Regions from separate parts of the Homo sapiens genome. Here region 1 is linked to region 2. Evidence: fine-mapped expression QTL. A gene starts in region 2. The other region holds a variant in brackets. All regions are shown on one strand. Distances are between the middles of the regions. Region 1 holds the start of GDF9 (growth differentiation factor 9). Region 2 holds the start of SHROOM1 (shroom family member 1).

Evidence for each region.
Region 1: its variant is fine-mapped to the expression of SHROOM1 in whole blood (INTERVAL, PIP 0.90).

The regions. Positions count from the first base shown.
Region 1 is chr5:132,863,764-132,868,763 of GRCh38, forward strand. It overlaps GDF9 (growth differentiation factor 9), which reads right to left and starts at 2,706. Exons shown (of 2, transcript NM_005260.7): 1 at 374-2,706. The coding sequence starts at 770. It overlaps UQCRQ (ubiquinol-cytochrome c reductase complex III subunit VII), which reads left to right and starts at 2,879. Exons shown (of 3, transcript NM_014402.5): 1 at 2,879-2,924; 2 at 3,106-3,272; 3 at 3,725-5,000. The coding sequence starts at 3,119. The coding sequence ends at 3,819. RefSeq lists enhancers at 2,158-3,357, 2,216-2,716, 2,717-3,217. The variant C/T (reference allele first, on the strand shown) is at 3,084.
Region 2 is chr5:132,827,342-132,832,855 of GRCh38, forward strand. It overlaps SHROOM1 (shroom family member 1), which reads right to left and starts at 3,306. Exons shown (of 10, transcript NM_001172700.2): 1 at 3,253-3,306; 2 at 120-266. RefSeq lists silencers at 2,675-2,984, 3,195-3,614.

The DNA.
Region 1 (5,000 bases), 36 kb after region 2:
AACAAGAGAAAAATATCCTATTTAACACATCACACCAATAGCTGTAAGAGATGTTTAAGGTCCATTTCTGGGCCAAAAGCTTGGTGGAACAGAAAGAGGTGCTAACATTCTCTAGCAGCACTTCCGCTCAGCCTTGAAAGCCATTAAGTCTCTGGTGTTGCTTTAAAATTCCATCATATTAGCCCACCTTAACCAATGAGAGCGTTAGGAATAAACAATAAGCTCAAGTCCCAGATTTGTTTCAACTGGATATTGAGTTTTATGCAAAATAAAATACAATTCAAGGAACTAGGCTCAGCTCCTTTCTGTAATTGAAATGCAGAAGTGTCTATCATCTTCCCTCCACCCAGTTAACCAATCTGCTTTCACATACCTGTTACCTGGTCTCCAGGAGCCTGCTTGTGCCGGGTACAGGGGGTGAAGAGCCGAACAGTGTTGTAGAGGTGACTTCTATTGGATTTAGGAATCCCTTCCTTGGTAGCATATGTCTTATAGAGCTTCTTCATGTAGTGCAAAGCTCTGGAGTCTGGCTGCAGCCTAGGTGACCCACCTCGCCCAACAGATAGAACTTTGAAAAGCGCGGGAAGGAGGCCAGCTCTGTCTCTCTCATCTATATGCTGCAGCAAGGACCAAGGCATAGCCCCAGATTCCAACTCAGCACTAGCAGCAATCTGAGCTTCTCCCCCAGAAGCCTGAGAACCAAGGCTAATAGGAAAACACAGCCAGGCAAAGCAGCAAAACCAAAGGAGGAATTTGTTGGGACGTGCCATGGCTTGGGAGAACTAGTGAGGAACATATTTCTCCATGCCAGTCCTCTTCCTAAAGGCCAGGAAGAGCCTAGCTTGGTCTCTTAAATAAATTTCAGGTGTGTGGGTGGACTACGGTCACTTCTGTAATCAGGCCTCAAGTATGCCTAGCTGAAGATTTTATCAGCTCTATATCAAGCAGCTGATAACACCTTATTTAGCCAATTTGTTAATTAGATACAGATTTACTTGGTTATTTAGCTTTCCTCTCTTTTCCCCTGGCATTTACGTAAAACCCGTTACTGTTACACTACCGGACTAACTATGTAGCTGAAAGTCTAAGATAAATTGAGGAATGATCTTAAATAAAATCTCTCATTTTTTGAGAAATTTGGATTAAGATGTTCGCTAGGTGCTTGCTGAAACTTCTAAGGCATGTGGAAAAGCTAACCAATTATTCATGACGATACTCAGATCTGCTGGTATGCAACTTATGGTATTAGGTTTACTCTTCCTCTCAATTTATCCTCACGGCCTTTTCCACTTCCAGGTGTTTACAATTGTAATTATTCGCTGCATGTTAATTTGCGAATTTACAAATTTGGGTGAGAAAGTCACAATTGGCATAGAAGTTCCAGAAAGCAGAAAACCATTAGGTCTCTCAGTCCTCCCAGGTGGCTGGGTACAGAATACGTACTTGGAGTACTGGAATTGTATTTGCGATGTTCTTAAAAGAGGACACCGCCTTTAACCTTGACTTATTTTTAAATGTAACATACTGATGTCCTTACTTTGGTCTGCACACTCATCTATACATATTTTGGTTGAAAGGTTTTGGGATGTTTGCAGATGCTATAAAATAAATGAACGTTTTATTATTATTCATCCAAATGGTGGTAGAATTTGCCACAATATTTCTGTCCTTACCTGTATTTCTGTTCTTGCCTTGGAGCTGAGACCAGGCTAGACATTATGGTTTAAAAAAATGAGGCAAAGGAGCACCATGAAAAGCTGAAATGAGGGGATATTCAGCGCCACCCCGAAGGAGACTATGCTGGAAGAGTCAGCCTACACTCATAGTGCAAGATACGAAGCCAGTTTGTGCAGTACCTACATGAGAAAACTAAGGTATGTCTGCAAAATACAAGTTGACTGCCTGCCGAGCCTCCGTGGTCCGTAAGTAGTGTTATAAAACACAGCCAACTGTTGAATGAGAGCTTAGTCCTAGATAAAATATGGCCAGCAATTCCATTAACAAAACACTGACAAGACACCTCAGGGCGAGCTGTACATTGACAACAGCATCGTCAAGCAGAATGCACTTCAGGGAAAACATAATAAGGCCTCTCACCCGACTTTCCTTGCTTCTCACGTGGGGAGAAGAAAGAACTGGGGCATCGTGATTCCCCCCACCCCACGCAAACCATCTGGGGAGGACGCTGGCTGCTGTCGAGGCGGCCTCAGCATTCATCAATTGACGATTATTTGATTATTTTTGTGGCTGAAACTGACGAAACGTTTGTATTATCTCTTGGGAACGTTAACAGCCTGCCAGGGGACTCTAAAACAGAGTCCAAGAGAAGCCTTCGATGTGTGTCCCTGATTTTGGTGCTGGGGTCGCTCATGGCCTGAAAATAACGAAGCCCCCTTTGAGCTACTGGCCAAGGCCAAATGAAACCTCGTGCTCCTCTGCTGTGGGGCGGCCCGGCCTCGGGGCTCAGAGGCGCTCTGTCTACAGCTGGGAAGACTCGCAGGCCCCAAGCTCCTGGCCAGCGCTGCCCCGGAGGTCGGCAGGCCCCTTCCTCGTCACCTTTTTGTTCCCTCCCCCGCCTCCCGCATTCGGCCGCTTCCTGACTGGGATTCCACAGAAAAGCCGAGGGCTGAGGAGAAGTGTGAGCGCCTCCGCCTGTCCACTGTCCCCCAAAGTCAGTTCAATCCCCGACGTCCTCCGCTAGGCTCCACCCCACCGGCCCGGGCAGGGCCTCCAAGGCACCTCCCACCTACGGGTCACCCAGTCAGCCCACTTCTTTCTGGGACAAAGGCGTCATCCCTTAGAGACAGTAGGAAAATGGTATCTCCCGGAAGTTACCTCACGACCTCCAAGAGCGGCTTCCAACCTTGCCGGAAATGACGAACGAGTCAACCGGATCGGTGACTGTGGAGGGCGAGCTGAGCCCTGTGCGTGAGTGGGGTCTGGTTGTGCAGTGTTCGTGGACCCTGGGAGGCTAGGGGCGCCCCGCTGGGCTGGGAAAGGATAAGGAGTGCAGGGGCAGGAGTCTGGGGTTGGGGATGGACCCCCGCGGGGACTGCGGCGCTTCGCGAAAGCGAGCCAAGCGC[C/T]TGTCCACCCTCGGTCCTGCAGGGCCGCCGCCACAATGGGCCGCGAGTTTGGGAATCTGACGCGGATGCGGCATGTGATCAGCTACAGCTTGTCACCGTTCGAGCAGCGCGCCTATCCGCACGTCTTCACTAAAGGAATCCCCAATGTTCTGCGCCGCATTCGGGAGTCTTTCTTTCGCGTGGTGCCGCGTGAGTGCCTTGGGCCCGCGGGAGCGGGAGGCTGGACCCCAGCAGCAGCAGCAGTCACTGCGCCTCCCCTCTGAGCGCTGGCGGCCGGGCAGGCGCTCTGTAACTTGCCGTACACACCTTTCTCATTGAATATTCCTGACCGCCCTTAAGCTGGTCATATTATCCTCCCCATCTTACACGGGGAAAACTGAGCTACAGAACTGAAATGACTGGCCCAAGGTCACTCGGGTGATTCCAGCATGTTCCTCTGAGGTCACCTTTATTTAGTTCTTACCAGTGGTGAAATGCTTTGTGTTAAACGTGCAGCAGATAGTGATGATAGTTGCATGGCCTTGGATATGCTAAGAACTACTGAAGTGTATGCTTTAAAGAAGACAAGAGGACTGAGACCTTTTTTTTTCTTCTATATGTCTTATATGTGTGCTCTCTGTTTACTCTCTTAATTTTTAAAGAGTTTGTAGTGTTTTATCTTATCTACACATGGGGGACTGAAGAGTTCGAGAGATCCAAGAGGAAGAATCCAGCTGCCTATGAAAATGACAAATGAGCAACGCATCCGGATGACGGTTCCCTGTCTCTGAAAGACCTTTCTCTGGAAGAGGAGTCTGCATTGTAGTGTCTCAAAGACACAATAAACTTCCTATGGTCTGCACTGTTGTGATATTACATTTTTGTGAGTAGAATCCTGTGTGACCACTAATATTCAAGTTCATGAAGCGCCCCTCCTCAGCATGAGTCTTGAAGTTTTGCCTGGTCTCGGGTTTTGGTGAAAGAGCAGGGCTCCCCCTTTGTTCCATTATCTACAAGAAAGTAGCTGCAGGTACTCCTGCATCTAACCATTTGTGGGTGACATGGGCTATGGCGAGTGCTGGTTCTTGGCCCTCTGCTCCCATAGCAACAATAAAGTCTACTAACTATATTGTAATTAGTATGTGTCAGGGACGCTTTTATTTTTTATTTTTTGAGATGGAGTCTTGCTCTCTCACCCAGGCTGGAGTGCAGTGGTGTGATCTCGGCTCACTGCCATCTGTGCCTCCTGGGTTCAAACGATTCTCCTGTCTCAGCCTCCGAGTAGCTGGGATTACAGGTGCAGGACACCACACCTGGCTAATTTTTTGTATTTTTAGTAGAGACAGGTTTCACCATGTTGGCCAGGCTGGTCTGGAACTCCTGACCTCAGATGATCTGTGCGCCTCAGCCTCCCAAAGTGCTGGGATTACAGGCGTAAGCCATGGTGCTCTGGGCCTCAAATACTCTTCTTAGCTACACAAATGAACTGTTAAACCTCACAAGCACCTTTAACGTATCCTCATTTGGCAGATGAGGAAATGGGCACAGAGAGATTAAGTAATTTGCCAGAAATTATACAGCAGTGAATGGTGGAGTCTTGCACTAAAGTGATGCTCTTAAAACTATGCTCTATTGCAGGGGTGTCCAATCTTTTAGCTTCCCTGGGCCACACATAAAATACGCTAACATTACAATAGCTGATAAGCTTTAAAAAATGGCAAAAAAAACCCTCAGCGTTTTAGAAAGTTTACAAATTTTTGTTGGGTCGGATTCAAAGCCATCCTGGGCTGCTTGCTGCCCAGGACTGCGGTTGGACAAGCTTGCTCTACTGCCTTTCCTCCTAAGGCAGGCCTTAGCCTGAGGGGATATCAGCTATAAAACGGATGAGGTGATCTCTTAGCCTCCACAGCAGTTTTCTGTTTCTGTGCCAGGAGGCCA
Region 2 (5,514 bases):
TGCAGTGGCTCACGCCTGTAATCCCAGCACTTTGGGAGGCCGAGGTGGGCGGATCACTAGGTAAAGAGATCAAGAGCATCCTGGCCAACATCGTGAAACCCCATCTCTACTAAAAATACCAAAAATTAGCTGGGCGTGGTGGCACACGCCTGTAGTCCCAGCTACTCGGGAGGCTGAGGCAGAAGAATCGCTTGAACCCGGGAGGCGGAAGTTGTAGTGAGCCGAGATCGCGCCACTGCACTCCAGCCTGGCGACAAAGTGAGGCTCTGTCTCAAAACAAAACAAAACAAAACAAAACAAAACAAAACCCCAAATATTTGCTGAATGTCAAGGGAAATAACAGATTTGCAGGGAGTAGATGTAGGGGTGGCCTTGGTAGAGAAGGAAGAGAGTTCCTTAGCTTCTGCGCACGCTTCTTCCCTCCCTATTAGTCTTTTCTGGGGAAGAGGACAGAATGGGTGAAGCACTTGCCACCATAGACACTGGCCAGGTTCCTCATGCAATATTAGGTACGAACAGAGCAGGCAAGCACAGCTTGGGGCAGGACTCACCAGAAATCAATCCCTTCTGGTCCTGGGAGGGGGATCAAGGGTAAGAGTTGAGTGGGTGTGCCTGGGTCAGGGTAAGAGAAATTTTGAGGCTTGGGAAAGGGCAGTGTTGAGGTTTGGGGCTCCCTATGAACTATGGAGACTTTTGGGCGCTGGCCTCCATTCTCTGAGCTGCTTGGTAGGGAGTGCAGAGTAGGGTGGCCCACGGCTAGGGTGAGGACCAAAAAGCAGGCTTATTTGAGCCTCCTAGACACTATCTGGAGCTCAGAGTCACCCTCCACCCACGTCCCTGAGGCCCAGGATGTTACAGATTGCTGGTTAGGGCAAGGATGGGGGTTAGTGGTAGGAGGATATGGTGTTTCCTAAAAGGGAAAGGCAGTACCTACAACATTCCCAGGAGAGGCTCTCAGCAGACCTAGGACCAGAACATCTTGATGTCACCCACCTGGGGGCATTTGTATATGCCTACTAAGCCCAGGAGCTTAGCCCTCACACTTAGGGTTGGGGACCTCTTTTGCAAAGTATTTCCACTCTAAACTTTAGGAGGACAAGAAACTACTCTGAGTAGCAGCTCCTGGGAGGACAGTCCCCTCATCTAGGAAGCCCACCCGACTGCTCAGACATTAGCCCTTTCTCTTCCTACTCTTTCTGAGTCCAGCTTGGGAGCACTAGCTCATGTCACCCATCCTGCCCATTTTGGCTTGCTGCAGCTACAGATGGGGATCACCAAACACAAGATGTTTCCTCAAAAGAGGTCTTGAAAATCTATGAAAATCTATCTTATTTGTGAGTTACTATGTTAAAGGATTCTGAATTCAGCAAATAAAAACAGCTTGAATGGGCAATAAAAATGTGTCTACACATGTGTTTCCTTATTGACTGTAACTTGTTGAAGATGCTTTTGCACTGGTGGCCCTATCAGGTTGATGTTCACGCAGGCTCCTCACAGTGGGTGCTTTGCAGAACCTACCATGCCAAGAGGGCCCAGCTGCTTTGGTGTGTTTTGGGGGGCCTCAGCACAAAACAACAAGGCATTTTCATACTTGTCTGGCTGCAGGGAGCCTCTTGCAGTCCAGCCAGCCCCTGTGGCTGGGGGTAGCCCTACCTTAGGGGTCCCTGCCTCAGTGGCAGTGGTACCTGTGGGCTGGGCTGTTATGCCTGTGCCGGCTGCTGAAAGGGAGTTCAGAGGTGGAGCTCAAGGAGCTCTGCAGGCATTTTGCCAAGCCTCTCCAGAGCAGAGGGAGCAACCTAGACTCCCCGCTAGAAAGACACCAGATTGGAGTCCTGGGAGGGGGAGTTGGGGTGGGCATTTGATGTATACTTGTCACCTGAATGAAGGAGCCAGAGAGGAAGGAGACGAAGATGAGATTGGCCTTCAAAGCTAGGGGTCTGGCAGGTGGAGGCACCAGTCTGAAAGGAGGAGCTGGGGCTGAGGAATTGTCAAGGGGGCCAGTGCTCCTTCAGTCTGGGCTTCATGGTGTCTGTGACAAGTCAGGCAGCAGTTGGGATGTGGCTCTGGAGTTCAGCAGGGGAGGGTAGACCAGGCAAGACCCAGGTTTTTAGTTAGAGGTTACTGGGGAAATAGCTGAAGACAGTTTCCGGTGGATAAAATCACACCAAGGCAATGGGAACAGATCCAAGTAAGGCGACCGAGGAGGCACAGGAGAACGGACAGCCTCAAATACAACGAATGATCAGGATTTACATCATACCTCCCTCAAGGCCACCTCACATCTGACCTCTCTGTGGAGGGGCTATCCAGGCCGCCCCTCCCAGCGGGTCTTCCCTCAGTACTGGGCTCACTGTGTAGGCGCTGTCTCCCTGTCAGACTGAGTTCCTGGGTACTGGACCACGTCTCAAAACCCAGTACCCGCAGCTGGGTCTGGCTAGGCGGACGTTCTGGGAAGTTCACCGGCTCTCCCTGTCCCCAGCGTCCCCCGTTCTCCCAGCCTGTCCGCGCTGACAGCGCACCCCACGCAGCATCCACGCTCCGAGTGTGCGACTGGTTTACGGGCTCATCGGTCGCTGCACCCCAGATGCAGAGTCTCTGGAGACCCGAGCTCCGTGCCATGCACAGGAAATGCAGGAAGCTGGCGACACCCGGGGAGAGGCGGCCGCGGGCGTGGACAGACCCGGTTACCTGGGGTTCAATCTCTGGGAGCCGAGGCACGGGAGGGAGAGAGGCGCAGGCCCCGGCGGCCGCAGGGGGCGGCAGAGACACGCGGAGCGGCTCGACAGCAGATGGCCGCAGCCCCGCGCAGTTCTGGGCCTTTCCCGTTGGGTTCACCGTCGGGGAAGGATCGCGCGCAGGGGACAGCGCGAGCCCGGGAGGGAAGGACCCGGCTTCTCCAGATGCTTGGCGACAAAGGGCAGGAGCGGAGGGTGGCGGAGTGAGACCGCGCTGCCCGCCGGCGCCACACGCGGCGCGCCCAGCCGCGCCCCTGAGCCGCGCCGCCAGCTTAGAGTGGGCCGCCTCTCCGCCCTGCAGCTCTGCAGCTGGGAGAGGCGCGCTGGGGTCCGACTCCACTGGCGCAACCTGACGCGGCGCCGAGCCAGACACGTCCCGGCCGAACGATGCCCGGGCTGCCCCGCGACCACCGCCTCGCCGCCCGCTCTTCACCCCCGTCCGCCCGCAGCCCCGCCGGCCTCCCGGGGGAAGCGGACCCAGCCGCCCGCTTCCCGCTCCCCCGCCCCCGCCGCGTACCTGAGGCTCCCGCCGAGACGCGCTCCTGGGCCGTCGCAGCCGCGCGGTGACATCAGAGCCCCGGGCTCTGACTCCGACCCCACCTCCAGGCTCCGGCCGCGGCCTCAGGGGAGGCGCCACGTCCGGCCGCGGGGGCGGGAGCCGCAGCCTCTTGGTAGCGTCCGCGCGCCGGCCCAGTCCCAGGTCTGAGGGTGGACAGTGCGTTCCCGCGCGGGCCACAGGCCTCTTGCCCCAGGCCGGAGAAACCTGAGCGAGGTGGTGGGAGGGCGACTACGGCGACCGCCCACCGGCCTCCAGCGCGTCCGTGATGCTCGGGGGCCGGGTCCCTCGGGGCCTGACACCTCCCTCGGTGGGGAGGTCCAGGGCGGGCCCTTAGGCGCCTGACGGCTACCCGCTTTCCCCCCCAAGCCCGGCCAAGAAAACAGAGCTGCCAGGGCCTCGTGCCTCCCACCTGTCCCGCTGAGTAACTCGGCCCTTGATCAACTCTACCCCCAGACCCCCATTTCCAAAACTCTTCCAGCTCTTTGACTCCCACCATGGGCTCTTGTCTCCTGTTCCCTGTCCCATTTCTTTCCATTTCTCCCACTACCCAGCATGGTCTGGGCCCTCCAGCCTGCTACCGGGGTGGGGGAGAGGGGGGCGGAGCACGGGGAAGCCCCTGGACTTGTGTGCACCTTAGCTGTCCTGAGTGTGTCCTTAGGGAGCTGGACATATGCATACCCACTAAGGCTGGACACTGGCGCTCGAGGCCCTCACCTTCCAGGATCTCCATTTTCCAAAGAACGCTCTGCCTGCACCTGCCACTGAGCTCTCCTTGCTGTGTCCTCAGGCTCCCCTGCCCCGACTTCCCAAACTCTGTCCTATGAATACCACTCTGCCAAGAAATGCTCCGTTCCTGAGAGGGGCTGGGGACCCTTTGATGAGCCTCTCCGGCTCTCAGGTCTCTGCCTTTGTCCTCCGCTGCCCTCCCGCTCCCACAGGATCAACAGGGCTGGGCTCAGGGGCTGTGTCCTCCCATGGTAGTATCCCTGGCAAATAAAGGTTTATTGGTGTTAATAACCAGGACTCTGAACTCTGGCCAAGAGTCAAGGTTGCCACTTCCTAGGGACACTGGGAGCCTGAGGAACTCTGTCTTCTTGGGTCTTCTTGGGTTCGGAGGCAGGAGACACCTGAGCCCGACTTCTGAGAGTGGTGCCCGCTGGGCCCTGCTCCTTCTTCAACACCATCTGGACTCAGGCACCAGCTTCAGCTGGAGCGCTAGGCTTTAAGACAGTGCCTAAGAACCTTTCGGCTTTGAAAGACTTTTGTTGTTTGTTTTGCTTTTTTGAGACAGAGTCTCCCTCTGTCGCCCAGGCTGGAGTGCAGTGGCCGGATCTCTGCTCACTGAAACCTGCGCCTCCCAGGTTCAAGCAATTTTCCCTGCCTCAGCCTCCCAAGTAGCTGGGATTACAGGCACCGGGCACCACGCCCAGCTAATTTTTGTATTTTTAGTAAAGACGGGGTTCGCCATGTTGGCCAGGCTGGTCTCAAACTCGTGACCTCAGGTGATCCACCCACCTTGGCCTCCCAAAGTGCTGGATTACAGGCATGAGCTACCGCACCCGGCCTGAAAGACTTTTAATATTTTTAAGACCCTGATCCACAGAGTCTCACAGCAGCATCAAAATAGAAGAAAGACAGCCCAGCAAACAACAACAAAAAATTTTTAATTGCTCATGTTGGCTGGGGCGGTGGCTCATGCCTGTAATCCCAGCACTTTGGGAGGCCAAGGTGGGCAGATTGCTTGAGCTCAGGAGTTCGAGACCAGCCTCGGCAACATGGCGAAGCCCTGTCTCTACAAAAATACAAAAAAAAATAGCTGGACGTGGTGGCACGCACCTGTAGTCCCAGCTACTTGGAAGGCCTAGGCACAAGAATCGCTTGAACCGAGGAGGCATAGGCTGCAGTCTGCCGAGATCACGCTACTTCATTCCAGCCTGGGCAACAGAGTGAGATTCTGTCTCAAAAAAAAAAAAAATGGTTATGTTTTTTACTTATATTTCTTGAAAACTATGGGGACACAGTGTCCAGAACAATTCTATTAACCCACTCCACCCACCTACCACTCACCTCTTGCACACACTACAGCACCTCTCTGCTAGGGACCATGAGGACGCAGTCCAGAGCGATTCTTATTAACCCACTCCACCCACCTACCACTCACCTCTTGCACACACTAAGCAACTCTCTGCTAGGGACCATGAGGATGCAGTCCAGAGCGAT